Homo sapiens: one gene and its partners. The protein of the gene in region 4 purifies or fractionates together with the protein of the main gene of each other region. This does not show direct contact. Each region holds a gene or a part of one and is shown on either strand. Other genes may lie near its edges. The genes, in order: H3-7, ERC1, EIF2AK2, MACROD1, XPC, HTATIP2 and DHX9.

Region 1 (3,198 bases), on a different chromosome or scaffold from region 4:
ATAGATTCTAGTCTTGCTTCCTTAATGGTCACTGTAACAAAAGTCTTGTTATCCAATCAGAATGGTCCATTTCACACTAACCAGTTTTAAGCTAGGTGAAGCGATAGTTTCAACGGCTTGAGGTTTTTTTCTTGGTTTTCACTTTCCATTAGACTTGCATACGGAAGAAATCTTAACGCCAGCTAGACAAGTTAACTCTCTTGCCTCGTTTTTGCATTTTTATTCTATACTTTGTGGAAATTTTTTTCTCTTCCTTGAAATACTACCTCACCCACACATTTTTAAAAATCGCCAGATATTTACTCCCGCCCGCTTAAATTACTATTCTGGCTTGGACACCGCCTGTAGTATGCAATGAGGAAGATGCTGAGCTTTAATTAAGCTTATAGTTCCTAAATAAACCAGGAAACGAGTTTATAATTTTTAAGGGACTCGCCCCACCCTTACACTCAGGATCTTCCACATCTAGAAACTCCCCATAGTCTCTTGCCCCCATGCAAAACTTTACCCACAGAATTGGGAGCCGGACCTCTAGCCTTAAACCAGCGTGAAAAGGCTCGGCCGGAACCACAAGGACCATGCCTCTGCGGCTTTCTCTACTGCCGGCCAACTCACGGCTGGGCTTTGGGTTCTGTAACGTCACCCACCACGAGTGCCCCTGGCCCCTGACCGCTGCGCAAGGCAGACGCACATCAGATGGAGAGCCGGTACAGCTGCTCTTGATGAAAACGGCAGTGGCTCTGAAAAGAGCCTTTAGATCGACCACTTAAAAATATACCTTAGGCCCGCTCCCCGCGGATGCGGCTGACCAACTGGATGTCCTTGGGCATGATGGTCACGCGCTTGGCATGGATGGCGCACAGGTTCGTGTCTTCGAACAGCCCCACCAGGTAGGCCTCTCTGGCCTCCTGCAGCGCCATCACGGCCGAGCTCTGGAAGCGCAGGTCCGTCTTAAACTCCTGCGCGATCTCGCGTACCAGCCGCTGGAAGGGCAGCTTGCGGATCAGCAGCTCCGTAGACTTCTGATAGCGCCGGATCTCCCGCAGAGCCACGGTGCCGGGCCGGTAGCGGTGCGGCTTCTTCACCCCGCCCGTGGCCGGCGCGCTCTTGCGGGCCGCTTTGGTAGCCAGCTGCTTCCTCGGGGCCTTGCCGCCGGTCGACTTGCGGGCAGTCTGCTTAGTACGGGCCATGCTGTCTCATTGATACGAGAGGGTCTAGGCAGTCGTATTTATAGACATAGCCTCCTCTTGATTGGGCCTGAAAAGGAAATTTTCAAACTTGTGATCTCATTGGTTAAAATTCAGTCCTCTTTACTGGGGCGGAAGATTGTTCTGCTAATCTTTCTTCCCTTATTATTTCCCCCTTTCCTGATTTTTTTCTGTAATTTTATCGATCACGGATTGCTTTTGAAGACTTTCCTTTAAATTAGTCTAACTTTTGTAAAAGCAATGTATAAAGTGTTTTGCATCCCATTTTAACAGAGATTTTTTTTTTTCCCCGAATTCAAGCATGCCCTTCTATGAGCTATCAGCCTGTTTCAGGTTACCTGTTACTGAAGCTCTTCTACCATAGCTAACATTTATTTCATGTCTAGCATTTTGCTCAGCAAGTTAGATGCATTGTATACCATGAATGACCGAAGCTTAGCAAAAAAATATGTAATTGAAGGAATGAAAAAATTGATCTTATTTACTTGACCTTGGAACCCAGCCAAAGCCATTTCATGTGGGTAGTGTGCTGACCTATATTGACCTGATATTAGAGCCTCTGCCTTCCTTTAGTCTTTTCTCCCTGCGATGTGGTTCCTTCTTCCTCACCCTCACATCAATGGCCAATTAGGTCCTGCAGATGTTAAGCTTCTAAATCAAAGAAGGACAACACCAGAAATTCATTTCTCCTTTACAATGTAGAATAGTTTGTAAATTAGTGCTAATTAGCCAGATTACAAGTTAAAGTTTCAAAGCAAATTATTCATCAATTGCTGACTTGCTAACATTTTATTCAATAAAGTATTTTATAATGCTTAAAAGTTTAATATTTTTTTCTGTTCTCTATGAAGAGAGTAAAGATGCTTTGCTTTTTCAATTTCATGTGCTTTGAAGTATGTATTGTTCAGAACAGTAAATATAGTGGTTATGTAGAAGCAACTGATACTTAAAAGTTGTAGTAGTTAATATAAAACTTTTAATCATATGCTTATTTTACTAAAAAAATCATTACAAACTATAAAAACTCAAACCTGAGAAAAGCAGGCCCGAAACGCTTAAAACTTACTTTGATGGTGTCATTATGAACTATCTTCCTACTGAAGTCAAAGTAAAGTAAAAGTGATTTCAAGGGGACTTCCTGAACACTAAACACAAAGTAGAAATCTGTGAGCTTAATTAATATCTTCAAGAGTCTCTCATGGGCAGAAGCATCCTCCTCTCGAGAGATCTAAAATGTACAAAAGTGTAACTGATGTGAACAAATGTTATCCCTCTCTGTGGTAGTTTTGTAATAATGCCTTACAGACAGCAGGCACTACTCAGTGTTTAAAGTTCTTCTACATACACTTTATCATTTAATCCCTACTCTGTGAAATAGATCTTACTCTTCTCACTTTACAGATAAGAAAACTGAGTCTCAGAGAAATTATGGCTTGTCCTGGGTAAGTAACAAAGCCTGTGTAATATTCTAAAGCAAAAGAATGAAACGGTAATGATGAAACTTTCTATTTCATTAGGCTTAGAGGATACCTTTTTTTTTTTTCATTTGAGATGGAGTCTCACTCTGTCACCCAGGCTGGAGTGCAGTGGTAGGATCTCTGCTCACTGCAGCCTCCGCCTCCTGTGTTCAAGCAATTCTCCTGTCTCAGCCTCCTGAGCAGCTGGGACTATAGGCGCAAGCCACCACCCCCAGCTAATTTATTTATTTATTTGTATTTTTAGTAGAGACAGGTTTTCACCATATTGGTCAGGCTGGTCTCGAACTCCTGACCTCAGGTGATCCACCCTCCTCGGCCTCCCAAAGTGCTTGGGTTACAGGCATGAGCCCCACACACCCAGCCAACACAGTTTAAAGCACAAAAGCGTTTTCCCATCATGCAATCACATCATCTAGTATTTCTCAAACATCTACACCCAACTATTCCCATTAGAAGGGAAAACTACCCCATGGAATCTGGATGATAGCCCAAAGCAGCCCACCCAAGCATCA
Region 2 (4,336 bases), on a different chromosome or scaffold from region 4:
CATTCGCCTTCTGCCATGATTGTGAGGTCTCCCCAGCCATGTGGAACTGAGAGTCCATTAAACCTCTTTCCTGGCAGGGTGCAGTGGCTTACATCTGTAATTCCAGCAATTTGGGAGACCAAGGCGGGTGGATCACCTGACATCAAGAGTTCGAGACCAGCCTGACCAACACGGCAAAACCCAATCTCACTAAAAGTACAAAAATTAACCAAGCATGGTGGCAGGTGCCTGTAATCCCAGCCACTCAGGAGGCTGAGGCATAAGAAGCTTGAACCCAGGCGGCAGACATTGCAGTGAGCCGAGATCGCGCCACTGCACTCCAGCCTGGGTGACAAGAGCGAGACTCCGTCTCAAAAAAAAAAAAAAAAAAAAACTTTCCTTTTTAAATTACCTAGTCTCGGGTATGTCTGTATTAGCAACATGAGAACAGACTAATACAGTGAGGAAATGAAAAATCACTCAATAAATGAAGTTTAAATACTTGTTGCTCTTTGAGAAACATAACGTATACTCGTCTTCACATAGTACACCAAAATAAATTCCATATACATTAAAGATATAAATTTTTTAAGCCATTAAAAGTACTAGAAGAAAATTTTGAAGAATATCCTTGTGAACTTGAGTTAGGAAAAGGCTTCTTAAATAAAAAACCAGAAGCAAAAACCATAAAGAAAAACAACCAACACACTTAATTATGTCAAAATGACAAAGTATTATACCAAAAAATGCTGTAAATAAAATTAAAAGATAAACCAAAAGCTAGGTGAAAAATACAGTGAACATAAGTATAATGATCTGTAAACAGAGTATGTAAAGAATTCCTACACGGGAAATGCCAATTTTGAAACAGCGATAATTAGAGGGAAGGAAACTTGTGTTATAAAGGGGAAAAATGTTTGTGGAGGCTTTAGCTCAACTTAGAAAGCTTTACACTCAAACTACCATAAAGCACCTGAATTTTTTTTTCAAAAAAGAAAACATGTTCATACTCTACAAGTATAACTAAAACAAATTTTAAAACCACAGGCAGTTGTCCCTTGGTATCTGCTGGGGACTGGCTCCAGTAGAACGTATCCAGATATCCAAGACTGCCCCAGACAACAAAAATCCCAGGATGCTCAAGTCCCTGATTCAAAATGACACAGTAATTGCATAAAACCTATGGATATCCTCCAGCATACTTTAAATCATCTCTAAATTACTTATAATACTTAATAAAATGTAGATGCTATGTAAATCGTTGTTATACTTATTGTGTTTTTTATTTGTATTATTTTTCCATGTTGTATTATTTTTTCCCAAGTATTTTCTTTTTTTTTTTTTTTCCACTTTTTTTTTCAAGGTGACTTTAAGATTCTTTCCCAAATATTTTTGGTCCACAGGTGGTTTGAGCTGTGGATGCAGAACCCACTAAACTATAGCTATCAACTTTATAGACTTCTTTCAAAGACAATATAGATCTAAACTAGATCTCTCTGATTTCCTAGCATCATTTCAAAGCATTGGCTTAGGTCAAGTAACAACAGGCTTCAGCATATTAAACAATATTTTCCCAAAATCCATTGTTATGTAAATTGATTCTTATAAGTGTTTCTTCATTGAAAACAGTACCAAGTAAATCATATTGTCAAAAATGAGATTCTAAAGACAGTATCTATTCTGGTCAAACAGGTTAAAAGTCCTCAAAAATGTGAACACACAGGTGGTTTGAAATAACAGGCAGGTGGTTTCAAACCTGTGGGGGGAGCGGGGTGGAGAGGCGGGAGATGTTTTGTGTTTTTGTTTGTTGAGACAAGGTCTCCTCTGTCACCCAGGCTGGAGTGCAGTGGTACAATCACAGCTCACCGTGGCCTCAACCTCCCAGGCTCAAGCACTTCTCCCACCTCAGCCACCCGAGTAGCTGAGACTACAGGCGAGCATCAGCACACCCAGCTAATTTTTGTATTTTTGGTAGAGGTGGGGTTTCACCATGTTGCCCAGTCTGGTCTCGAACTCCTGGGCCCAACGGATTCGCCTGCCTCAGCCTCCCAAAGTACTGGGATTACAGGCGTGAGCCACCGTGCCCAGCTGATGGTACTTTCTTACAGCAGCCCTATCAAATTTACGTATCTCATCTCCTACATAAGAGAGAAACAAAGAAATCAAACAGGAACTATCTCAACTTTCTCTCTCCACATGTTCATTGACAGCAACAACCATCCTTAACTTCCTCTATTCTGATGGAAGTGGGCTACAGCTAATCCTTCCACAGGGTACTTTAGTCCCCATTCCCTCTGGCTTCTCCAGAGAAACCTTAGTTAATGAACACTTTTCCTCTCTAATGCCTTTTTAACTTCTGTCTATAATACATCTTGTTTCTTAAGCACTCCCAATTTTTTGACACTCTCCTCTCTTGGTTTCTTTATATCATATGCTCTTTTCTTCTAACCCTCCTCCTTCTTTGTTCGTTCCTCCCTTAAATGTTTCTGATCTTCATCCCTATGTTATTCTCACACTACAATATCATCCTTAAGAAATCCTTTCTCCCTGCCTCCACCAGCTTAAAATAACATATGTACAACAAAGACTCCAAATTCACTACTTCTCCAGTACTTTTTTACTTCTCCTTTGAGAATCAAAACTATGTATCCCACTTCTGGACATCTTCACTTATACTCCTCACATGCACCTCAAATACACCATGCCCCCAAACTGAACTCCGTATCAAGGTCTCCCCATTCCAAAACCAAACCTGCTGCTGCAGGGGAAAAAAAAAAAATCAAAAAAAGAACATGGTAGTGGACAACATCTATTCACATGAATAACATCAGCTGCTCAAGCCAGAGCCTGAGAGTCCTCCCAAAATCTTCATACTCCATATACACACATATTATCAAAACAATACAATTCCTGTTGCTTTGATTTCTAGGTACCTCTTAAATTGATCCTCTTCCTCCATTCCCACAATTATTACCTTGGTTTATGCCATCCTATCCTACCTGAATTAAAACAACTTTCTAACCTGACTGCCTGCCTCTAGCCTCAGAGTCCTGTATTAGTCCATTCTCAAGCTCTATGTAGAACTACCCATAAGACTGGGTAATTTATAAAAGAAAGAGGTTTAATTGACTCACAGTTCTGCAGGGCTGGGGAGGCCTCAAGAAGCTTACAATCATGGCAGAAGGGGAAGCAAACACATCCTTCTTCACATGGCGGCAGGAAGAAGTGCCAAGCAAAGGGGGAAGAGCCCCTTACAAAACCATCAGATCTAGGCTGGGCGCGGTGGCTAACGCCTGTAATCCCAACACTTTGGGAGGCCAAGGTCAGTGGATCACTTGAGGTCAGGAGTTCAAGACCAGCCTGGCCAACATGGTGAAACCCTATCTCTACTAAAAATACAAATATTACCCAGACGTGCTCACTTGAACCCAGGAGGCAAAGGTTTCAGTGACCCAAGATTATGCCACTGCACTCAAGCCTGGGTGACAGAGCAAGACTCTGTCTCAAAAAAGAAAAAATAAAATCGATCTCGTGAGCACTCACTATCAGAACAGCATGGGGTAACCGACCCCACGATTCAGCTACCACCAGGTCCCTCCACAACATGTAGGGATTATGGGAACTACAATTCAAGATGAGATTGCTGGGGACACAGCCAAACGGTAACAGTCCCCAGTCAGTGTTTTTCAAACTTAGAATTATGACCCAATAGTAGGTTGTGAAATCAGCTTGATAAGCTGCAACCAAGCTTGTTTTCTTGTTTGTTTTAAATGAAATAAAATCACTACATACCCTGAGCCAGAATCACCCAACACACTCTTCATGAAATCTGAGATGTTTGTTTTTCAAATCCAGTAAGTTCTGAAGTAATTGTAATGCAACAAGAGATAACAGTATTGTTTTCTGCAATGTTTCAGGTGTGCATATGCATGCACATGTGCATACTGGATCACAATATAAAATGTACTTCTTGGCCAGGCACAATAGCCTGTGCCTGTAATCCCAGCACTTTGGGAGACCAAGGAAGTAGGATTGCTTGAGTCCAGGAATTCAAGACCAGCCTGGACAACATAGCAAGATCCTATCTATAGGAGAATAGAGATAGGATCTCTAAAATAAACAGATAAATAGAACAGAAAATAAAATGTATAGCTTATTTTCACAGTGTATCACACTAAAGTAAACATAAGTAATGTTGAGAACTGTGAAGGAACTAGGATTTTATTTAACCCTACTTACAGGTTAATACATTAGCCTATGACCATTTCATGGATACTGACAGAATACATGAGTCTCCTGGGTCAAACACAAAGAACTTTTATTACTCACAGCGCAGCAAGCATGAACATGTTTGCAC
Region 3 (3,972 bases), on a different chromosome or scaffold from region 4:
AATACTGTGGTGTCATTTCAGCCAACATACCAACATTCAGTCAAATCCCAAAGCCAAATGGATAATTTCAGATGGAATGGAGTTAGACAGGAACTGGCTTCCCTTTCTCCTGTTACTATGAGGACAACCCACACCTGCTCAGTGGCCTAAAATATTTTAAATATGTTCATGACAATTATGCTGAGAATGCCAGGATAACACTGATGGAACCCATGACTTCACCAGGATTGTGGTCTACATTTACAGGCCTAGTACTAGAACTAGACCGGCTTAGAGAGTGGGAGATATCCCTCTGTTGTCCATCGAAAGATAAAAATACAGGCTTTCAGCCGGGTGCAGTGGTGCATGCCTTTGGTCCCAGCTACTCAGGGGGCTGAGATGGGGAATCCTTTGAGCCCAGAAGTTTGAAACCAGCCTGGGCAACATAGTGAGAGACCTCCATCTTAAGGGAATAAAAAAAAAATCAGACTTTCAATATGAGTAACAAGTTATTTTTAGGCCTTTTATGACTTTATAAATAGGCAATAATGAACACCAAGGGAAGCAAAACACTGAAAAGAATTTTAAAATTTGTTGTAGAACATTAATACGAAATTTGAAACTGCAAAACAATGTAAAATTTAATGTCATGTTGTCATTTACTTTTGTGTATATTGTGCCATGTTTATTTTCAAAGTCCTATCTAGAAATTCTAAAATGTCTAATTTTCTTAATTAAAAATCCAGAATTCTGTAGTTTCTGAAATTCAAAATAAATACTTTAACATACCAAATTGGTTTTTCTAATAAACATTTATTTCAAGTGTTATTTGTTAAACATTTAATTGTTGAGATTTGAAAATGAACATTATTATTTATTAGACACATTTTATAGGCTCATTCAAAATTCTTAACTTTTGAGTTCCTGCTTTCTTCACAGCAGTGCACTCACTACTTTCTGGTATACAAGAAGAACAGCTTGTCCCCACTCTTACAGTGTAATGAAATTAGCAGTATAATGAAGAAAAGTGCTGTGTAGGAATGACTGAGCTCTAAGACAAACTGGTAAGAACAATTAGGTACTAAACAATGGGAGTACTAGGGAGAAGATTCATTTTGAGTGGGAGATGTTGGAACACTTTGGAAATAACACTGAATTTGGGTTCTGAAAGATGGATATAATTTTGATATGCAAAGTTATGAGGAAAGAGTTACTGTATAATCCAGCCATTCTCCTAGGAATATACATCCAAGAGAAATGAAAACAAGTCCACATAAGATTTGTACACAAAAGTTCATAGTAGCATTATTCATGGTAGCCAAAAAGTACAAACAACCCAAATGTCCATCAGCTGATGAATGGATACATAAAATGCGACATATCCATATGATAGAATATTATTTGGCAATAAAAAGGAATGAGATGCTGATTCATGCCACAGCTGGGATGCACCTTGAAAATATACTCAGTGAAAAAGACCACATGTATGATTCCATTTATATGAAATGTCTAGCATGGGCAAATCTATAGAGATGGAGAGTAGATTAGTGGTTACCTAGAGTTGTGAGAAAACAGAGTGAATACTAACGGGCATAGGGTTTCTTTTGGGGGTGAGAAAAATGATAGTTGCACAACTCTGAATATAGTAAACACTACTGAATTGTATACTGTATAGGTGAATTGTATGGCATGTGAATTATATCTCAATAAAGCAGTTATTAAAAAAAAAATGAAGAGAATTTCAGATAGAAACCACAGGAGAGAGCCACTGAGTGCAAAAGCCTGTTGAGGTAAAACTGCAGACCTGCATGGGTGGGGCTTACTCGGGAAACACTGAATATGGGATGCATCATGGAAGCCTCCAGAGGAGCATGGCCTTGCCCAGTGAACTGCAGCCCAGTGAATCTCATTTTAGACTTCTGGCCTCCAGAACAGAAAGAGAATAAATGTGTGTTGTTTTAAACCACCAAGTTTGTGGTAATTTGTTAGTTATAGCAGCCATAAGAAATTAATACAGGTCCAAATCAAATTAACCCCATAAGAGCCACACAGATTTGAGAAGCATTTTATTTGCCTCACAGTTTTGCCTATTATACAGTTTCTAGTTATTTAGAATTTAAGCCAATAATGTCACCATATAACTATCAACTGTGATTCCCTTCATCTATGACTATTTTTAAGAAATGTAAGATTTGGATAAGTCATAATCACAGATCAGAAACTGCAGACATTGAGGCCTGGATGGCCGTTTAGAGAGAAAGAGTTAACATTTCAGTGGAGACCTTTCCTATCTTGTATTTCCTACAGTCTCCTCCTATCTTCAGTGCAGTGTTCTGGCAGCACCTCAAGCTCACTGTCACCAAATGGGATTCAACGTCTTTCCTCCCAAACATGCTCTACCTCACCATGTCGATAGATGTACAGTCGCCCCACTACTGGCTTAAATTCTAAATTACTGAAAACCATGTAACAGGTAAAAGTGTGAGACAAAGTACCCCTCAAATACATGTGGCTCTTGGGGTTCATCTGACTGAGACTTGTATTTACTTGAATGGCATCAGAATCCTGCTACTAACCTTCTAACAAACTTGGAGGTAATCTTTGATGCTTACCTTTCCTTAATCCCCACATCCAATTAGTTGCCAACTCCTCTTGGTTCTGTCCTCTTATTGTTCAGGCCCTCTTAGTCTTTCCACTTCTGACCTTTCAAATATAGTTTCCTCCTGCTCTATTCTAAACATGCTAGTTTCAAAGTATTGGTTGGGCCATACCTTGCTTTAAAGAAATACTCATTTGTCAACTGTGGAGGTTGCTAGGGCACTAACTCACTCTAAAATTTGATAAATATTTATCGCATCTTTCCCATTCAGATTTAGAGAAAGTTCCTTAAAGAAGAATCATAGATGATAAATGCAAGAGGTTTGATAGAACCAGAAAATCACTATTTTACAACCCCTGAAATGAAATAATGGATCCAGGCAACAATTATCAATAGCTGCTAAAACCATCAGGTGAAAGATTGATGAGAAACTTTGTAGTAGTTGGTACCACCAGAACTCATTGATCAATATTAAAATCACTGAAAGTGGAACAATCAGACATCATGTTCCTCCTGAAATGATGTAAGAGAAAGTGTATAGCATCACCTATGGAGTATTCTTGGGGGAAAATAAATGAACCAGGATCAAATCCAGCTTCTAGGTCTAACTGGACACTCTGGGGATACTCTCAGTCAAATCCTGAGTGGAGGAAATTCCACAGGACAAATAAAAGCCGAAAAGAACTAAAACGCAGGGGTAAATTTTACAGAGTAAAGGAGACACATCAACCAAATGCAATGTTGGATCTAGATTTCAACAACCAAGAAAACTGTATTTTTGAGATAGAAACAATACAGACTATTATATGATAATTAAGGAAATCTTGTCAATTTTTTGAGTGTGACAATGATGCTGTGGTTTTGTTAAAAAGATTTATCTGCTAGAGATACATTTTAAAGTACTTACAAGTGCAATGATGTAACACCTGAGATTTACTTTAAAATATTCCAGTAGGGCCGGATATTGTAATCCCAGCAGTTTGGAAGACCAAGGCAGGAGAATCTCTCAAGGCCAGGAGTTTGAGACCAGCCTGGGAAACACAGCAAGACCATATTTCTACAAAAAATTTAAAAATTAGTTGGGTGTGTTGGTGTATGCATGTAGTCCCAGCTATTCAAGCGGCTGAGGCAGGAGGATCACTTGAGCCTAGGAGTTCGAGGTTACAAGGAGCTGTGATCGTACCACTGTACTCTGGCCTGGGTGACAGAGTGAGATCCTGTCTCTTAAAAAAAAAATTACAATTAAATACTTCACCAAAAGAAACAAACAAAAAGTAAGGGGTTAGATGTATTAAGAACGGTAAAGTATTGATATTTGTTGCAGCTGGGTGATGGGTAGAGTTTCATTATTCTATTTTTGTGTATGTTTGAACATAAAGAAATGTATGAATAAT
Region 4 (4,336 bases):
GAGGTCAGGAGTTCGAGACCAGCCTGAACAACATGGTGAAACCCTGTCTCTACTAAAAATACAAAAATTAGCCGGTGTGGTGGCACAGGCCTGTAATCCCAGCTACTCAGGAGGCTGAGGCAAGAGAATCGCTTGAACCCAGAAGGCGGAGGTTGCAGCGAGCCGAGATTGCACCAGTGCACTCCAGCCTGGGTGACAGAGCGAGTCTCCGTCTCAGAAAAAAAAAAAAAAAAAAATACAAAAATTAGCCGGTGTAGTGGCACACACCTGTAATCCCAGCTACTCAAGAGGCTGAGGTGGGAGGATTGCTGGAGTCTGGGTGGCGGAGGCTGCAGTGAGCCAAGATACCACCACTGCACTCCAGCCTGGGCAACAAAGTGAGACCCTGTCTCAAATAAATAAACAAACAGGCCAGGCACGGTGGCTCACTCCTGTAATCCCAGCACTTCAGGAGGCCAAGGCGGGCGGATCACCTGAGGTCAGGAGTTTGAGACCAGCCTGACCAACATGGAGAAACCCCGTCTCTACTAAAAATACAAAATTAGCCGGGCATGGGGGCGCATGCCTGTAATCCCAGCTACGCGGGAGGCTGAGGCAGGATAATTGCCTGAACCCAGGAGGCAGAGGTTGTGGTGAGCCGAGATTGCGCCACTGCACTCCAGCCTGGGCAACAAGAGCGAAACTCGGTCTCAAAAAAAATTAAAAAAACAAATAAATAAAAATAAATTAGAGAAAGTAACCCCTGGCTAGTAAAATCAGACACTGCTGAAGTGTCCCCAAAAGACTGAAAGTCTCCCAGCCAGGAAGATCCAGCCTGAAGGTATGTACATACCTAGAGGGAGAATGGGCCCATGGAAATGAGCGTCAGCCTGGAGGTAAAGAAAAGGAGTGTCCAGGGGGAAGCTGAATTTGGCCGTCAGCTTGGAGGACAAGCTGGGCCATGGGCTGGGCATCCTTCCATGGGTCCAGAGCAGGCACTCAGCACTGCATATAGATGGAAATACCGAGCAAACGCCCGGGGAAGGGGATCCTTGTGGGTGGGCTGACCCTTCTCAAACAGGGAAGCTTACCTGCCTTGCCCAGGGCAAGGCTTCCAAAATCACTCAACCAGCCCTGGATAAGATCGCATGCTCTGAGCAATCCTAAGATTACAATTTGGCTTCCATGAGGCTTTCCCATAGGGAGAGGAGGCTCTGCTCAGGCACACCTGAGTTTTCAGACCCACTGCCATTATATTTCCCCACCACAAACTGCACATATGCCTTCTGACCTATACGTCAGTCTCTTGTGAGTTTGGTTACTGTGTGCCAGGCTTTGAGAGAGGATCCTCTCAGGCAGACAAGTATTTGGAGGCCTATCTAGGTACAGCCCTGAAATGAGAGCACATGTCCATCAGAGACATGGAGAGAATGTTCAGGAAGCCAGGCACAGTGGCACACATCTGTAATCTCAGCGCTAGCACTTTTGCAGGCGGAGGTGGGAGGATCACTTGAGCCCAGGAGTTCGAGACCAGCCTGGGGCAACATAATGAGACCCTGTCTCTGCAAGACATTTTTAAAAACATTAGCCAGGCATGGTGGCACATGCCTATAGTCCCAGCTACTCAGGAGGCTGAGGTGGGAGGATGGTTTGAGCCCAGAAGTTGGAGGCTGCAGTGAGCTGTGATTGCACCACTGCACTCCAGCCTGGGCAACAGAATGAGACCATATCTAAAAAAAAAAAAAAAAAAAATGTTCAGCACAGTTTTATTCACAAGAAACCCAAATGCCTATCAACAAAAGAGTGGGGGCCGGGATGGTGGCTCACACTTGTAATCCCAGCACTTTGGGAGGCCGAGACAGGTAGACCACCTGAGGTCAGTATTTTGAGACCAGCCTGGCCAACATGGTGAAACTCCGTCTCTACTAAAATACAAAAATTAGCCAGGCGTGGTGGCGGGTGCCTGTAATCCCAGCAACTCTGGAGGCTGAGGCAGGAGAATCGCTTGAACCCAAGAAACGGAGGTTGCAGTTAGCCAGGATCGTGCCACTACACTCCAGCCTGGGCGACAGAGCAAGACTCCATCTCAAAAAACAAAACCAAACAAAACAACAAAAGAGTGGGAAACAAGCTGTGGTACGTTCATATGCTGGAACACTATACAGCAATGAAAAAGAGGGAACCATTGCCACATCCAATAACAAGGACGAACTGGCCGGATATTGAGTAAAAGGGGCCAGACTTCAAGAAGAGACAAAATGAACAGATATCACAAGAGTGATTAGCTCCAGACAGTACCAAGTGAAAAGAGGCGACTTCTGGCGTGATGGCAATGCTCTACCTTTTGACCCAAGTAGTGACTGCACAGTTGCATACACTGTGCACTGAAGATCTCTACACTTGCAGCACTTGACTGTCAAATGTAACTTGGCTGAAAGTGTGATTTGAATGTAACGATGAAAAGTGTAGCAGTCTTCAAGGGCCACGGCTCAGACCCTAATCAAAGGCAGAGTCCAGCTGGGGCAGCCCCCCAGATCTCCCATAATGTGATGGCTTAAAAAATACACTTGGCCAGGCACAGTGGCTCACACCTGTCATGCCAGCATTTTGGGAGGCTGCGGTGGGCGGATTGCTTGAGGCCAGGAGTTTGAGACCAGCCTGGGTAACATGGTGAAACCCAGTCTCTACAATAAAGGTTTTAAAACATTAGCAGCCCATGGCTCACACCTGTAACCTCAGCACTTTGGGAGGCCGAGGTGGGTAGATCGCTTGAGCTTAGGAGTTTGAGACCAGCCTGGGCAACATGGTGAAACCCAGTCTCTACAATAAAGGTTTTAAAACATTAGCAGCCCATGGCTCACACCTGTAACCTCAGCACTTTGGGAGGCCGAGGTGGGTAGATCGCTTGAGCTTAGGAGTTTGAGACCAGCCTGGGCAACATGGTGAAACCCAGTCTCTACAATAAAGGTTTTAAAACATTAGCAGCCCATGGCTCACACCTGTAACCTCAGCACTTTGGGAGGCCGAGGTGGGTAGATCGCTTGAGCTTAGGAGTTTGAGAACAGCCTGGGCAACATGTCAAAATTCTGTCTCTACAAAAAAATACAAAAAATTAGCTAGGCGTGGTGGCGTATGCCTGTAGTTCCAGCTACTTGGGAGACTGAGGTGGGAGGATCGCTTGAGCCCAGGAGGTTGAGGAAGCAGTGAGCTGAGATCTCACAACTGCACTCCAGCGTGGGCAACAGACCTTGTCTCAAAAGAAAAAAAAAAATTAGTTGCACATGGTGATGCGCGCCTGTACTTCCAACTACTCAGGTGGCTGAGGCAGGAGGATCGCTGAGCCCAGCAGTTTAAGGGTGCAGCTAGCTATGATTACACCACTGCACTTCAGCCTGAGCAACTGAGCGAGACCCTGTCTCGAAAAAAATTTAAATTAATTTTAAAAATTTTGGCCGGCCACAGTGGCTCACGACTGTAATCCCAGCACTTTGGGAGGCTGAGGCGGGCAGATCACGAGGTCAGGAGATTGAGACCATCCTGGCTAACACAGTGAAACCCTGTCTCTACTAAAGAATACAAAAAATTATCTGGGCATGGTGACGGGCACCTGTAATCCCAGCTATTCGGGAGGCTGAGGCAGGAGAATGGCATGAACCCAGGAGGAGGAGCTTGCAATGAACCAAGGTCGCGCCACTGCACTCCAGCCTGGGTGACAGAGCAAGACTCCATCTCAAAAAAAAAAAATTTAAGAAAATTGGCCAGGCCCAGTGACTCACGCCTGTAACCCCAGCACTCCGGGAGGCCGAGACGGGCAGATCACGAGGTCCGGAGATCAAGACCATCCTGACTAACACGATGAAATCCTATCTCCACCAAAAACACAAAAAAATTAGCCGGGCGTGATGGCACGCGTCTGTAATCCCAGCTACTGGGGAGGCTGAGGCAGGAAAATCACTTGAACCCCGGAGGCGGAGGTTGCAGTGAGCTGAGATCACACCACTGCACTCCAGCCTGGGCAACAGAATAAGTCTTCATCTAAAAAACAAACAAACAAACAAACAAACAAACAAAAATTAGCCGGGTATAGTGGTGGGTGCCTGTAATCCCAGCTACTCAGGAGGCTGAGGCAGGAGAATCACTTGAACCCGGGAAGCAGAGGTTGCAGTGACATCACACCACTGCACTCCAGCCTGGACAAAAAGAGTGAAACTGTCTCAAAAAAAAATTTTTTTAAGAAAATAAAAACACACCTTCAAATTCTTTGAGATTCTTTCTTTCAAGAGGTAGAGCCTAATTTCCCTCTCCTGGAGTATGGCCAGACTCCCTGACTCGATTCTGACCCCTAGAATAAAGCAGG
Region 5 (4,336 bases), on a different chromosome or scaffold from region 4:
TCGTGGTCTTCAGACAGGAGCGGGTAAAAAAGGGGTCTTAGGGGTTGACAGGTAGGCAGCATCTGGACATCTTCCTAAGGAAAACAGCAGGGAAATGGACACAGTCCTCTCAGAATAAATGTGAACTTCTAACCATTTCACACCCGTTAAAATGGCTATTAACAAAACACAGAAAGTAACAAGTGTCAGTGAGGATGTGGAGAAAGTGGAGACCTTGTGGACTGTCGGTGAAAATGTAAAATGGGTGCAGCTGCGGTGGAAATGGTAAGGTGGTTCCTAAAAAAATGATGGGAATTACCATCTGGCCTAGTAATTGTACTGGGTATATGCAAACAAACAAACAAACAAACAAAAACTGAAAGCAGAATCTTGAAGAGCTATCTGCACACCCATGTTCACAGCAGCATAATTCACAACAGCCAAAAGGTGGAGACGAGCCAAGTGCCCATTGATGGATGAAGGCACAAACAAAATGTGGTCCACCCACACAATGGAGTATCAGCCTAAAAAGGAAGGAAATTCTGACCCATGCTACAATATGGATGAACCCTGAGGCATTATGCTAAGTGAAATAAGCCAGTCACGATGTGACTATAAATACCGCATGATTCCACCTACATGGGTCCCTATAGTAGGCACACTCAGAGACAGAAAGGAGAATGGTGGGTGCAGGGCTGGAGAAGGGGAATTCGGAGTTTTTGATGGGGACGGAGTTTTGGTTTGGGAAGAGGAAAAGAAATCTGGAGATGGATGGTGGTGATGGCTGGATGACAGTGTGAATGTGCTTAATGCTGTAGGCTGTACACTTAAAAAATGGTTGAGATGGTAAATTTTATAATATTTATAAATATTATAAATTTATTTATATATATAAATATATATAATTTATAAATATTATAAATTATTATAAAAAATTTATAAATATTTTACCACAATAAAAAATAAATCAATAAATATGCACCTCTAATGCTTCCTTCTGTCACTGACATGGTGCCTCTGGACGACGCCTGCATTCTCTTCCCAACAGGCTTTCTCCCGACTACCCGTACATACCCATAAGAGGAAGCCTCTATCAGGGCAGCCCAGGCCCCCTGCTGCCTTTGACTGCTGGGTGCTAAAGTCCCAGAACAGCAAAGCCCTGCCCCTGCCCAGGGCATCATGCCCCCCACCGACATCAAACAGAAAGCTCCAAGACAGGGCAGAGCCCTGAAGAGAGGGTCCAGCATGACTCCCATGGGGGGCTGACAAGCAGGAAGTCATCCCCAGTGGGAGGACTCAAATCGCCCACTCTCATGTGGGTTTCCCTACGCTTCCTTTTTCTCTTTTCTGTACCTTCCTGTTTTCTCATTTATTAAGAACATCTCCTATTTCTTGGTCTTGTACATCCCATGTCTTTTAAAATCACTTATTTTACTTGCTTTTTATTCCCATTTCTCAAAATTCCTGTTTCTATTTTTTTCTTACCTCAAAATTGTATTAACATTTTTCAATTTTAATTTTATATATATTTTATTCATTTTTTGCTCTTATTCCACTCTTTTTTTAGCTATTTCTTTTTACTGTGGTATAAAACACAGTCACATAAAATACACCATTTTAACCATTTTTTTGTTTTTGATACGGAGTCTCGTTCTGTCACCCAGGCTGGAGTGCAGTGGCGCGATCTTGGCTCACTGCAAGCTCCGCCTCCCGGGTTCACGCCATTCTCCTGCCTCAGCCTCTCCGAGTCGCTGGGACTACAGGCACCCGCCACCACACCCGGCTAATTTTTTGTATTTTTAGTAGAGACAGGGTTTCATCGTGTTAGCCAGGATGGTCTCGATCTCCTGACCTCGGGATCCGCCCGCCTCGGCCTCCCAAAGTGCTGGGATTACAAGCGTGAGCCACCGCGCCCGGCCCATTTTAACCATTTTTAAGTGTGCAGTTCAGTGGCATTAGGTCCATTCACAACATTGTACAACCATTACCACCATCCATTCCCAGAACTTTTTCATCCCAAACAGGGCTCTGTACCCATGAAAAATCCACTCACTTTTAACTTTCATAATCAAATCCTTTATTCCTTCCTTTTGTATGTTTTTGACTTATATTTGTGGGGTGTGTTTTATACTGCCCTATCTTAAATTTTATTTTTCCTACTTTGTATTTTATTTTCCCTGTAACTGTTTTTCCCCTGCCATTCTTTTAATCCCTGTTTTAATTTTCAAATTTTCTTCTCTCCTACACATCACACACACACAGCACACGCACACTGGCTCAGCCCGAGAATGCTGTCCAGTCAGATGAGCTCCCATCAGCAACCCTTGCCTAGGAAGAAGGCTGCTAATCCCATGCCATCAGGAAGCCCCTGAGGCCAACCAGGCTGCCTCACGCACCTGGAGTAGACCGCTTCTCCACGACAATACCCAAGGATGGCAGCTGTCTCGGGATAGATGGCCTCATATTTCAGGAGATGCCGCTTCAGGGCATACAGAGGGTGGTTCTTATATAAGCCAATGGCAGTGGGCAAAGGCTGGTCCATGTGTTTAGCCTGAAACTGCAAAGGCCAGACAGACAAGGTTGAGCATGTTATTTAGAAGAGGAAATGAAGTTTGAGGGAGATGATCCTTAGACTAACTTGTTCTGACAACAGATGGTGGAGCCAAGGTTTCATGAACACTAATGGTTTTGTAACATCGCATCTGTACCTCCGGCCAGTAAGTCAGTTACAGATCAATCAAAAGCTTTAAAGAATCAAATAAATCTGTGGCTTGTGGCAACTTCAAAAAGTTGTCTAACCTATTTGAATGCTTAGACACCTAACCCAGCCCCAGCAGATGTGTTAAAGGTCTGCAAGGAAGAAAAACACACAGTGCTCTTCAGTAAGAAGGTCTTATTTCAAAGGGACAATCCTCTTCTAGAGCGTGAGCTTACCTGTCTGCTCTCACAGGAAACTGAGAGCAGCGGTTCTCACCCTGCGACTTTTCTCTTCGTCCACTATGACAGTGTTCTCTCTGCCCTTCTCTGAGATTGCTCATTTCTCAGTAGGCAATTCACTGCTGTAAGTCACCCTGTTCACTAGGCTCTCTAAGGCTTGCCCTTGGCATCTCTTCAAAAACCCCAACAGACTAGAAAGGACTGGCAATGTGGAGTTGCTGAGAGTGGGAGAGGACGCTGCACGTTCAGCTTCCACTGCGCTTTAGGTAGGTTAGTTACGATACCATCTGCATACTTTCCACTTAACCTGTCATTACTAAGTAAAATGAACTTAGTAATGCACCCATTTTACTTAGCATTACTAAGTAAAATGCACCCCTGGAGCAAACACTCAATATGGGATGCATTGCACTCCTATAGGAAATGATTAATAAATCTGCAATTTACCTATCCTGAGGGATTGGAAATAAACCTGCGACAAATCTGGGCATGTTCCTGTGTAGAAATGGCAAGCTCCACCCACCACCACCACTGCCATACACACAGGCGGCTCGGGCACTATTCCTGGTGTCAGTGCTGGTTCTAGGATCAAGTGACATAGCTGTCATGTTCTAGAAGTCTCTGCCTCCCGGTCTGCCTTCTCAATAGACTGAAGATACTGTCTCATTCCGAGACAGTATCATGTCTGTCTCATTCCGAGACCCCTCTTTCCCAGGAGGTGAGTGTTCTATGTATGAGGGGTGTTTGCACGTACATCTTTACATTCACGCATGATGGGGGAGGGGGGAGAATATATCCATGGGTTATTCCTTCTTTCACTCAGTCTGAGTTATATTACTTGCATAAATTATTTTAAAGCTCCAAATTTATAACTGGGCAATAACTAAAAGTATACAGGCTCCAAAGCCACACAGACCTGGGCTCAAGCACCGCGGCAGTTCATCTTTCAACTCCACAACTTTTTACACTAAAATTAAGGCAGCAACTGCCCCAGCTTTATATGGCTGTGACAATTAAATGAGACAACCCATTAAAAACACCCAACATAGTGCTGGGCATATATAAGGTGCTCAAAAACAGGAATAATTTTAATAACCTGACTGTGTCTTGGAGCCCCTGGCAGCCAAGGCCTTACCTCCAAGTCTTCTTTCTTCTCCCTGTCCATAAATGGGCTCTGGTATGGTCTCAAGGTCTCGGCCCACCACTCAGCATCAACCCGGCACTTGCGGGTCACTGTCATCCAGACTGGGTCGTACCTCTGTGTGACATCTCGGACCCAGCCGTCACTGTCAATGCCCACCACATAGGTCATGGGCTTGGTGGCGTACTTGTAACAGGTCAGAGGCTGGCCCACCACACCGTGCACACAGTCTACACATACCCACTTTTCCTCCTGCTCACAGAACACCTCTAGCCACTG
Region 6 (4,336 bases), about 44 Mb from region 4:
CGTGAACCCAGGAGGCGGAGCTTGCAGTGAGCCGAGATTGCGCCACTGCACTCTAGCCTGGGCAACTGAGCGAGACTCCGTCTCAAAAAAAAAATATATACATAAAGACATTCTTAGCTCACAGGGTGTACAAAAACAGGTGGCAGGCTGTATTGCAAACCTTTGAATTAGAAGAGCAGATCATTAGAATCAGAAGCCATAAGGTTCTAATGAGATGGGCCATGAGATGCCTAATAAATGTCACAGTGGCCACACTAATCACATTAATGACATCATCCACTCAACAGAAAACAAGAACCTGGACTTCTGGAGCCTACTACGACCAGGTGAGGAAACAAATGAAAAGGTGAAACCACATCGAACCACCTTGAATTCACTAATCAAATCCCTCTTTTGATACAAATAAGGGGAAATGAACTATTCTCACTGGCATCTCTAAGTTTTTGTGCTTCACTCCAGGACAATACAGATCTGGTTTTCAAAGGCTATTTCAATCTTCACTAGCAAACAAGTTACTCACTAAAGCAAGGCAAAGGTTATCCAGGACCACAGTACCCAGAAAACCAGCAAGTGAGGGGAATTAATACACCCCAATGCCTCTTGAAAGTAGGTTCAACAAGAAGGACAGGGTTGACTGCATCAGGATCTCCCAAGGAGCCTGCTAAAAATACAGATTCCAAGCTTCCAAATTCAGAGATGCTGATGCAGTAGATCTGGATCAGGGCCAAGTCAGGGAGCCAGTGCATTGACTGAACAACTGTGTTCTGTGAATATGAAAAGGAAGATTAGCATCTGCCCAGCTACTGTTAAAGGAAATAGTCTTCCAAACAGCTGAGGAAAGCTAATAGACCTTTTCCTAGAACCAGTGTCAATAGAAACCTGAGTAGACTGAATTTTGTGGGTTGGATTACATCCCCCCAAAATGCGTATGTTGAACTCCTAACCCCCATTACCTCAGAATATGACCTTATTTGGAAATAAGTTCATTGCAGATGTAATTAGTTGAGATCATACTAAATAGGGTGGTCCCTAATCCAGTATGACTAGTGGTCTTATAAAAAGGGGAAATGTGGATATAGGCACAGGTATTCAGGGAAAATACCACGTAAAGAGACACAAAGAGAAGGCTGCCATCTACAAGACAAGGAGAGGGCCTGGAAACTCAAGGGCTCAGCCTCAGAGCACTGACCAGCCTGCTGAGACCTGGATCTCAGACTTCTAGCCTCCAGAACTGTGAGACAATACGTTTCTGTTGTTCAAGCTACTTGGGTTATGGCAGCCCTAGCAAACTAATACACTGAACATCACATGGAAATAAGCCACCTACACAGAGGATCTCAATACTGAGACAAAAACGCTGAATTTCTTGAAGTTTCTCTGCTGGAAACACAGACTGCTAAGGCAATATATGAGGTGTTCCAGTTACAAAATCCCTAGTGAAGCGTACTAGTTTTGCCACTAGCTTTGTAGTACTCATATGATAAACCACCCAACGAACTTTTTTCTACAGAGAGGGCTGCTGACCCAGAACACCAGCTGGGATAAGCTTGGAAATCCACAACCTCCACTTAAAACACTATCGTTACTTAGCCACATATGAACTGTCACCTCTTTCATATTGGCTAAAGTTATCAACCTCCCAACTTTATATTGTACACAGCCCAAATTAGTTTTTTTTTTAAAGCCCCCAAAACAAACAAAACACTTTTCTGGTATAAGTGTCAGCTTGCTTTCCACCACTAACCTCTTAAATCATTTAAGTCCTAATTCATTTCTAAGCTAGGTGAATAGTCTAGGCTCATTAGTCTATTCTTGCTTACTAGTTAATTACTTTTATCTTTCCAAATTGATTTTAAAGGAGAACAAAAGGTATTGAATAGCCTGAGACGTGAAGAACCAACCCCATTAAAAAAGAAAATTCTGGATAGTAAAGACACACAATTCCTCTGATTAAAATTGCATTACCCATTTTGAACACAAAAAGCAGTTTAGACTTTTCCCTGGCACACCCTATAATGAGATTTGCCTTATGTCATGAAAATCAACCCTTCTATGCCTAATGCAGCATTTTGTTTTGCTGACTCACCACCAAAACCAGGTTGGCACTTGAGACAAACCTGCAGTGTCCTGGAACAAAAGTTTTTCAATGCTTTTGGAGGGCACACCACTTGTGACTGTGCCTGGGACAGAAAAGACTGCACCCACTGTTAAGCAGGAACATGACCCTTTCTAGGAGAGATAATGTGCCAATTCCTGGGAAAGTCAAACTTCTCTATAATCCATAGTTCCCATCACAGAGCTCCAATCCCAGCTGTGTTCCAGGACAGATAGGCAGAACTGCAGAAGGTATGGAAATACATCTTGATTGAAAGCATACATAGAATTACTCTTTGCATCACAAGGAGGCCCAAAGAAATACATCTGAATCTAACTACTCGGTTGGTATAAATGAATAGTTCTTCACTATATGCTCCCTTAATGTTTCAGGTGAAGGGGTCTGGCTTATAAACCTAAGGAGAATTCCCATGGCAGAGTCATAGTCATATATATATATATTTTTTCTTTTTTCTTGTTTTCCTGGGATTACAGGCATGAACCACTGTGCCTCGGCTTTATTTATTTATTTACTTTTTTCACTTTCTTCTGTTTTATTTATGTATTTATTATTAAATATTTTTAAATTTTACTTTAAGTTCTGGGATACATATGCAGAACATGCAGGTTTTTTCAGCTCCAGCATGTAAATTCTGCCAGAGGAATAAACTATAGTCAAAGTATAAATTAAATAAGATGTACCCGCACTAACATTTGCCCAGAATCCAGGTAGTAAACTCTGATTTCTAACTATGTAGTAAACTATGACTTCTGTACAGGAGCTGACTCAATTTAGAACACCATTAAAAAGAAAATAAAATGTGCGTTAAAAGACTTTTGCGTCAGTAAAGACTGAATCATTAGTGGGGTTGAATCATCGCTGAAGGCTGAGTCATCGCTGGAGGCTGGTTGAATCGTGCCTGTGTTCTGATGTTCTATTCCAGAAGTTTAAAGCTTGACATGAAAATAAGTTGAAGCAAATCACTCAAGTGAGACAGAACATTTCAAATTTCAAACATTTATTAAGGGGAAAAACAGCTGATTGTTAACAGCATAAACCAATTAGTTTTACTCAGACATCATGGTTTCCCTTAGTCAGGGGATGTAGTGATAGCGATAATCACAATAGGCAAAATCATGTAAATATTTACGACGTCTCCAGCACTGGGGCCTGAACTCAAGGATTACTTTGAAAGACGAACTTATCAGTACTATTAAAAGGATACCAAAGGTTAGTGCAGCATATAGAATCTTAAACAATAAAGGCTTATTCACATTTAAGCATTGCAACAGGCACAAAGAAAAAGAGTGAGCAAGAAAAGAATCCTTGATATTACTGGCCAGCAAAAAGGGAAAAGAGCATATGCCTTCCTTACCGCCCCAGCTTTCCCTCTGGTGGTACCCAGGCAACAGAATCCAACATCATGACCTTGAAAGGCAGAGGCGTAGTCATCCAACTTTTCAAAGTCCACCACTTCTTGATTCTAGGCAAGGACACAGTTGTATGTAGTTTCATGTTATTTAAACAACAGACCAAAAACCCCCTCTAGATTTAAAGACTAAGTTACAGAACATTACTGACAGGCCTGTCCACTTAACATCAAATTTTACAAATTCCTTTTCTCCAACCAAAAAGCAATGAACCTCAGTTGAAAATCAACAACACACACATATGTCCACAGTCTATATAACTGGACTAGGGGTGATCCAGATTTCTGAAGTCAGGTTCGATTATAATCTCTCTCTGGAAAAATAAAAGACCTGTGTGTAGCTAACCAGGAAGGAGACCACTGAGGTATGATGTGAGGGCAAGAGATGGCGTTTGGCATCTTAAAGAAGACCTAGCTGCAAATCTTGGGCTTGCTACACTCACTAGGCATGTAGTTACGGGCAAATTATTCATCATACACTACAGCTTTTTTTTTTCAGCTGTAAAATGGGGGTGATAATCTTTCCTTCAGTCCAATCCATGAACCATTTGCATTATAATTAGTCAGGGAGTGCTTAATAAAAAGGCATATTCCTACATCCCACACCAATAGTTCTGAATCAGAATCTGCACTTTTAACAAGCACCCACCTTAATTCTCATGCACACAGAAGTTTACGAACCTCCATCTAACCTTATCAGTTTGCTGTATAACTTAAAAAAGAAAGCATGATAAATTCCTATCATCCAAGAACTCCGATAAAATGTTGGTTTCCATCCTTACTGTCAACTCTGAAAAGAATTTTTCTGGCAC
Region 7 (4,336 bases), on a different chromosome or scaffold from region 4:
TTTTTTGTTTGTTTTTTTCTTGAGACAAAGTCTCGCTTAGTTGCCCAGGCTGGAGTACAGTGGCTCAGTCTCGGCTCACTGCACCCTCCGCCTCCTTGGTTCAAGCAATTCTCCTGCCTCAGCGTCCCAAGTAGGTGGGATTACAGGCACACCCCACCACACCTGGCTAATTTTTGTATTTTTAGTAGAGATGGGGTTTCACCATGTTGGCTAGGCTGGTCTCGAACTCCTCACCTCATGATCCTCAGCCTCCCAAAGTGCTGGGATTACAGGCGTGAGCCACCGCGCCCAGTCTATAGAGATGGAAGTTTTTTAAAGGATCAAGACAGTTGCTTCTAATGTGTTGGTAGACATTTGACTGAAGTGTGACTTTTCTAATGCAGATCTTGCAGGAGAGAGAGTTACTGCCTGTGAAGAAATTTGAAAGTGAGATTCTGGAAGCAATCAGCCAAAATTCAGTTGTCATTATTAGAGGGGCTACTGGATGTGGGAAAACCACACAGGTTCCCCAGTTCATTCTAGATGACTTTATCCAGAATGACCGAGCAGCAGAGTGTAACATCGTAGTAACTCAGGTAAGTGGTAAACCAACCATGAAATACCTAGAGAGCAGACTATTTCTGATTCTTTCTTTGATTAACTAATTTTTGTAATTATTTAAGATTGAGAGAGCATTGTGCCCTTGAAATTAAATTTAAAAAAAGAAAACATAAAAACAACGTAGTCTTTTTCTAATCTCTAGTATGCTACACTAATAAGCTAAACTGGACTATGTGAGGGATTCTTTTTATCTGGGCTAAAGAGTCTCTGGGCCTAGAATCAGACTGTCGAGATTAAGAATTCTTTGTCCTAAAGTTCATCCAAATCTTGGTCATCTCTATCTAACCACCTTGATATTGAGTAAAAACCAGTCAGACAGGTAATGGTTAACTTTCACTGTATGCCATGTTCTATTCTAAGCAGTAGCTTTTTAGAAAAAACTCAATCGAAGTTCATAATGACCCTAAGATGTAAGTACTATTTCACATAGTATTTCTCTTTCAGTAAATTAAGGCATAAAGAAGGTAAAATGCCCAAGGTTAACACAGAAAGTGGTAGAACTAGGATTAAAAAACCAAGCAATCCGCCTTTTAGGATTCTTCCTTTTAACTAACACTGTATTACCTTACCAGCAATGAGCAGCGCCTGCATGTTTGTCCCAGTACTTAGGGAAGAACTGATTAGCTCTTCTAAGTGCTCTCAGGTTAAACAGTTCCGTTGGCTCTACCCTGTACTTCTGGCACTTTGTGGGAGAGCATTGCAAATAGCCAGGTACTACCTCTGAGGTAGGCTTACATCTTGACTTAGAAATTATTTTTTCCCCGATGGGTTAATGTTGCTTAACCTGGGAAACATAATCAGTTTTCAGAGGAGAGTTACAAACTTTGAAATGTGTGCATGTTCATTTACATTTGCATGTATAAAGCATATATCTGAAACTTTTTAACATTTCTGAAATTGAGATACATTTTTATAATTAGTATATTTGTATAATTGTATAATTAGTATAATTGTATATTTTATGTGAGAATTGGGTTTTCTCCTGAAAAAAAAAATTGCTGTGAAGGAATCATGTTGCATCCTAAGGCTGATGATACCTTAGGCTTGAAAAAATATGATAAATTGACATTTTTCTGGGAAAGGATTCCTAGCTTGTTCACAAAATTTTCTTTGATTTTCCGACTCACCCCTAAAACTGGCTATGGATTTTTTGACTTACAGTGAAGGCTGCAGCCCCAGATGTCATCATACTCCAATAAAATATTCTTACTCTTAATTCTTACCTCATCTTTCAGGAAGAACATTGTTCAAGAGTGCAATTTTACAGAAGAGAAGCCTTGAGCTCAGCTCTGCTCTGCTCTTCTCTTCCCTTCCTCTCCCTTCTACCACTATCCATTTCTAATCTCAAAAGCAGTTGTGGCATATAGCAGAAAGAAGCAGAATTTAACAAGCGAGCTGTGAAGACAGGAGTCTCAAGTTGTCTGCATGTCATAAATAGAGTAAAAATTCCTGCCCAAGTGAGAAGTGCTTTGTCTCACTGTCTTTTAAAATGTTCAGTGGCATGGAAATGTATTAGCAAACCTGTGTCTTCTGATTTGGGGTGAATTACTTATAACTCATATTGCATCTACATTCTGTGGCTTGCATGTTTTTGTCCTAGCGTTTGTCCCAAAATCAGTCTCATACCTCTTACCTGTAACAAGTCTTCAAAATTTTAAAAACCTATATTGTGTCCTAGTATGTACTTAGTTTGAAAGTCTCAACTAAACATTTATAGTTCAGCCATGAAGGTACAGTAAGTCTAAGATTTAAACACACTCAAATTCATCAGCACCTACCTGTAATATGAAAAGTAGGCCTGAGCATGCTGATTGGTTATTACAGAATACAGTTTTTTATTATTTTTGTTTTTAATATACTGTACTTCTTTTGGCACAGTCTGAGATAGCATTAGTTATTTTTGTAGTACTACCACTGTTGAATCATTTTTCCATTATCTTGCACTTGTAGCCATCTATAGGAAACCACATGAAGTCATCAGTTAAGTATTAGAAAGTTTTTTTATGTTCCTGATTTTAAGTGTATTATCTCAGTTCACAGAGCACAAGTTTAGAGTTATGGACTGGCGTATAACAGAATGAGTAGCTCAAACCATGACATCAGCCTTAGTGTAAATTCTCAACCAAACTCACTGAATTTTATCCTTCGGTCTATCCATACTCAAGCCACTTAAAACCTGTGGGCTGTATGCAGAAAATTTTAAGTAGGAAATAGTTGTCTTCTACCTTTAAAGTTATTTGAAAGAGATGAATTGTAATTGTAGGATGTAAATCAAGCATATTAATGTAATTTTATCAATCCTGTACTTACCCCATAGTACCATCATTTCAGGATAAGAACGGTTCTTTGTATAAAATAAATTCAGAACCTTAGAAGATAGAGATAGTGGAGCCTGATACATTTTGTAGTATCTAGTGCATTAGGAATCTTGACATTTTGTGGCAGCTTAGTCATGTTACTGTGTATATAACGCTTAGATGTGAAAAAGCAAAGTTGGGACCTTTTAGAACTTCAGTTTTGAAAGATGGAAGAAATTGCTGTAGTTCTGAGTAAATGGCAAGAGGTGTACATTAAAGGTATGGATTCTAGAATACTACAAAATAACAGTTTGGGAGAGATCTCCAACCTCTTATGGTATAGAAAGTGTTAGTTACCCAGTACCTGGTACATAGTAATTTCAGTGACTGCTTAGTACATATTATTAGAGCTACTTCAGTTAAAGCAGACAGAAGTGTGGGGAAGAGGTTAGCACTTGAAATTACCTACTACTATGGCTGGACTCCAGGCAAGAGTAGTAAAATTCTAAAGAGAAAATGAGATAAGCAGATGTATGCAATGAAAATTAAAAGCACATATCTGGAGGACAGTTGGAACTATTCTTCCAGCTTTCTGTTGGAAAAATATTATCCTTTGCTTTCATCACTGGTACTTTCTAACTAGTCTCACTTTTGTCGGTTATTGTTTTATTTTTAACATATTTAGTAATCCAAGTGTAACATAGTTAAAATAATAAAAAGTAAAATAATTGGAGAAAGGATTATATTGGGAGTAAAGGAAATTTGAAGTCTTAAGTCATTTATGTGTCCTTAGGCAAAATAACCTTTTTGAACTTGTGTTTTTAATCTACTAGAATGCAGCAGGAAAAGATTTTACTAGTATTCTGAAGCATAAATAAGGCATATTTGCTGCCATGGTTTTTACTGTTATATTACACAAATACGATTTCTAGATGTCTCTGTGTTCTTGGTTCTTATTTATATTTGAGTAATATAGAATATGTATATATTCCTTATAATAGAAGTGGCCGTGCAGGTATAGATAGAACTTGTTTTACCTATGAGCCTTGCCTTGTATTTATTCACTGTGGCAGAATATATAAAATAATTATTGAAGCACAGAAGATCAAGGGAAAAGTGATAGATTATTTAAGGGATAAGTAGAGCATCTTCATACGCTGTACAGTGGCATGCAGTCTGAGAAAGGTTTAAATAGTCATTGATACGCTCACGTTAGGCATTGTTTTCCCACACAAAATGCCTGTCCTGTGAATATTTCTAGTGAGCTAAGAATTAAGAATTAGAAGATTTTTTTTTTTTACTGCTTTTGGTGTACTACAAGAGTAATACATACACCTTGGGGAAATTTTAAGAATAGAATAATTTTTTAAAAATCCAAAACCCAGGCCAGGCTTGGTGGCTCACGCCTGTAATTACAGCACTTTGAGAGTTCAAGACAG

What was found.
Region 1: the proteins of MACROD1 (region 4) and H3-7 purify together in Homo sapiens (affinity purification with mass spectrometry; 2 studies listed by BioGRID and IntAct, with this or other methods). This does not show direct contact.
Region 2: the proteins of MACROD1 (region 4) and ERC1 purify together in Homo sapiens (affinity purification with mass spectrometry, with the first as the bait; one study listed by BioGRID). This does not show direct contact.
Region 3: the proteins of MACROD1 (region 4) and EIF2AK2 purify together in Homo sapiens (affinity purification with mass spectrometry, with the first as the bait; one study listed by BioGRID). This does not show direct contact.
Region 5: the proteins of MACROD1 (region 4) and XPC purify together in Homo sapiens (affinity purification with mass spectrometry; 2 studies listed by BioGRID and IntAct, with this or other methods). This does not show direct contact.
Region 6: the proteins of MACROD1 (region 4) and HTATIP2 purify together in Homo sapiens (affinity purification with mass spectrometry; one large-scale study listed by BioGRID and IntAct). This does not show direct contact.
Region 7: the proteins of MACROD1 (region 4) and DHX9 purify together in Homo sapiens (affinity purification with mass spectrometry, with the first as the bait; one study listed by BioGRID). This does not show direct contact.

Annotation. Positions count from the first base shown.
Region 1 is NC_000001.11:143,904,777-143,907,974, forward strand, and holds H3-7 (histone H3-7), read right to left. Parts: upstream 1,202-3,198; 5' UTR 1,191-1,201; coding exon 780-1,190; 3' UTR 734-779; downstream 1-733. UniProt on the Homo sapiens protein: Core component of nucleosome. Nucleosomes wrap and compact DNA into chromatin, limiting DNA accessibility to the cellular machineries which require DNA as a template.
Region 2 is NC_000012.12:1,021,832-1,026,167, reverse strand, and holds part of ERC1 (ELKS/Rab6-interacting/CAST family member 1), read right to left. Parts: intron 1-4,336. UniProt on the Homo sapiens protein: Regulatory subunit of the IKK complex. Probably recruits IkappaBalpha/NFKBIA to the complex. May be involved in the organization of the cytomatrix at the nerve terminals active zone (CAZ) which regulates neurotransmitter release.
Region 3 is NC_000002.12:37,098,438-37,102,409, forward strand, and holds the end of EIF2AK2 (interferon-induced, double-stranded RNA-activated protein kinase), read right to left. Parts: 3' UTR 773-3,972; downstream 1-772.
Region 4 is NC_000011.10:64,159,104-64,163,439, forward strand, and holds part of MACROD1 (ADP-ribose glycohydrolase MACROD1), read right to left. Parts: intron 1-4,336. UniProt on the Homo sapiens protein: Removes ADP-ribose from aspartate and glutamate residues in proteins bearing a single ADP-ribose moiety. Inactive towards proteins bearing poly-ADP-ribose.
Region 5 is NC_000003.12:14,153,960-14,158,295, forward strand, and holds part of XPC (DNA repair protein complementing XP-C cells), read right to left. Parts: coding exon 4,052-4,336; intron 2,537-4,051; coding exon 2,376-2,536; intron 75-2,375; coding exon of another isoform or gene 1-74. UniProt on the Homo sapiens protein: Involved in global genome nucleotide excision repair (GG-NER) by acting as damage sensing and DNA-binding factor component of the XPC complex. Has only a low DNA repair activity by itself which is stimulated by RAD23B and RAD23A.
Region 6 is NC_000011.10:20,366,416-20,370,751, reverse strand, and holds part of HTATIP2 (protein HTATIP2), read right to left. Parts: intron 3,579-4,336; coding exon 3,471-3,578; coding exon of another isoform or gene 3,372-3,470; exon of another isoform or gene 3,097-3,371; intron 1-3,096. UniProt on the Homo sapiens protein: Represses translation by preventing reactivation of elongation factor eEF1A. May also inhibit nuclear import by competing with nuclear import substrates for binding to a subset of nuclear transport receptors.
Region 7 is NC_000001.11:182,859,610-182,863,945, forward strand, and holds part of DHX9 (ATP-dependent RNA helicase A), read left to right. Parts: intron 1-383; coding exon 384-575; intron 576-4,336. UniProt on the Homo sapiens protein: Multifunctional ATP-dependent nucleic acid helicase that unwinds DNA and RNA in a 3' to 5' direction and that plays important roles in many processes, such as DNA replication, transcriptional activation, post-transcriptional RNA regulation, mRNA translation and RNA-mediated gene silencing.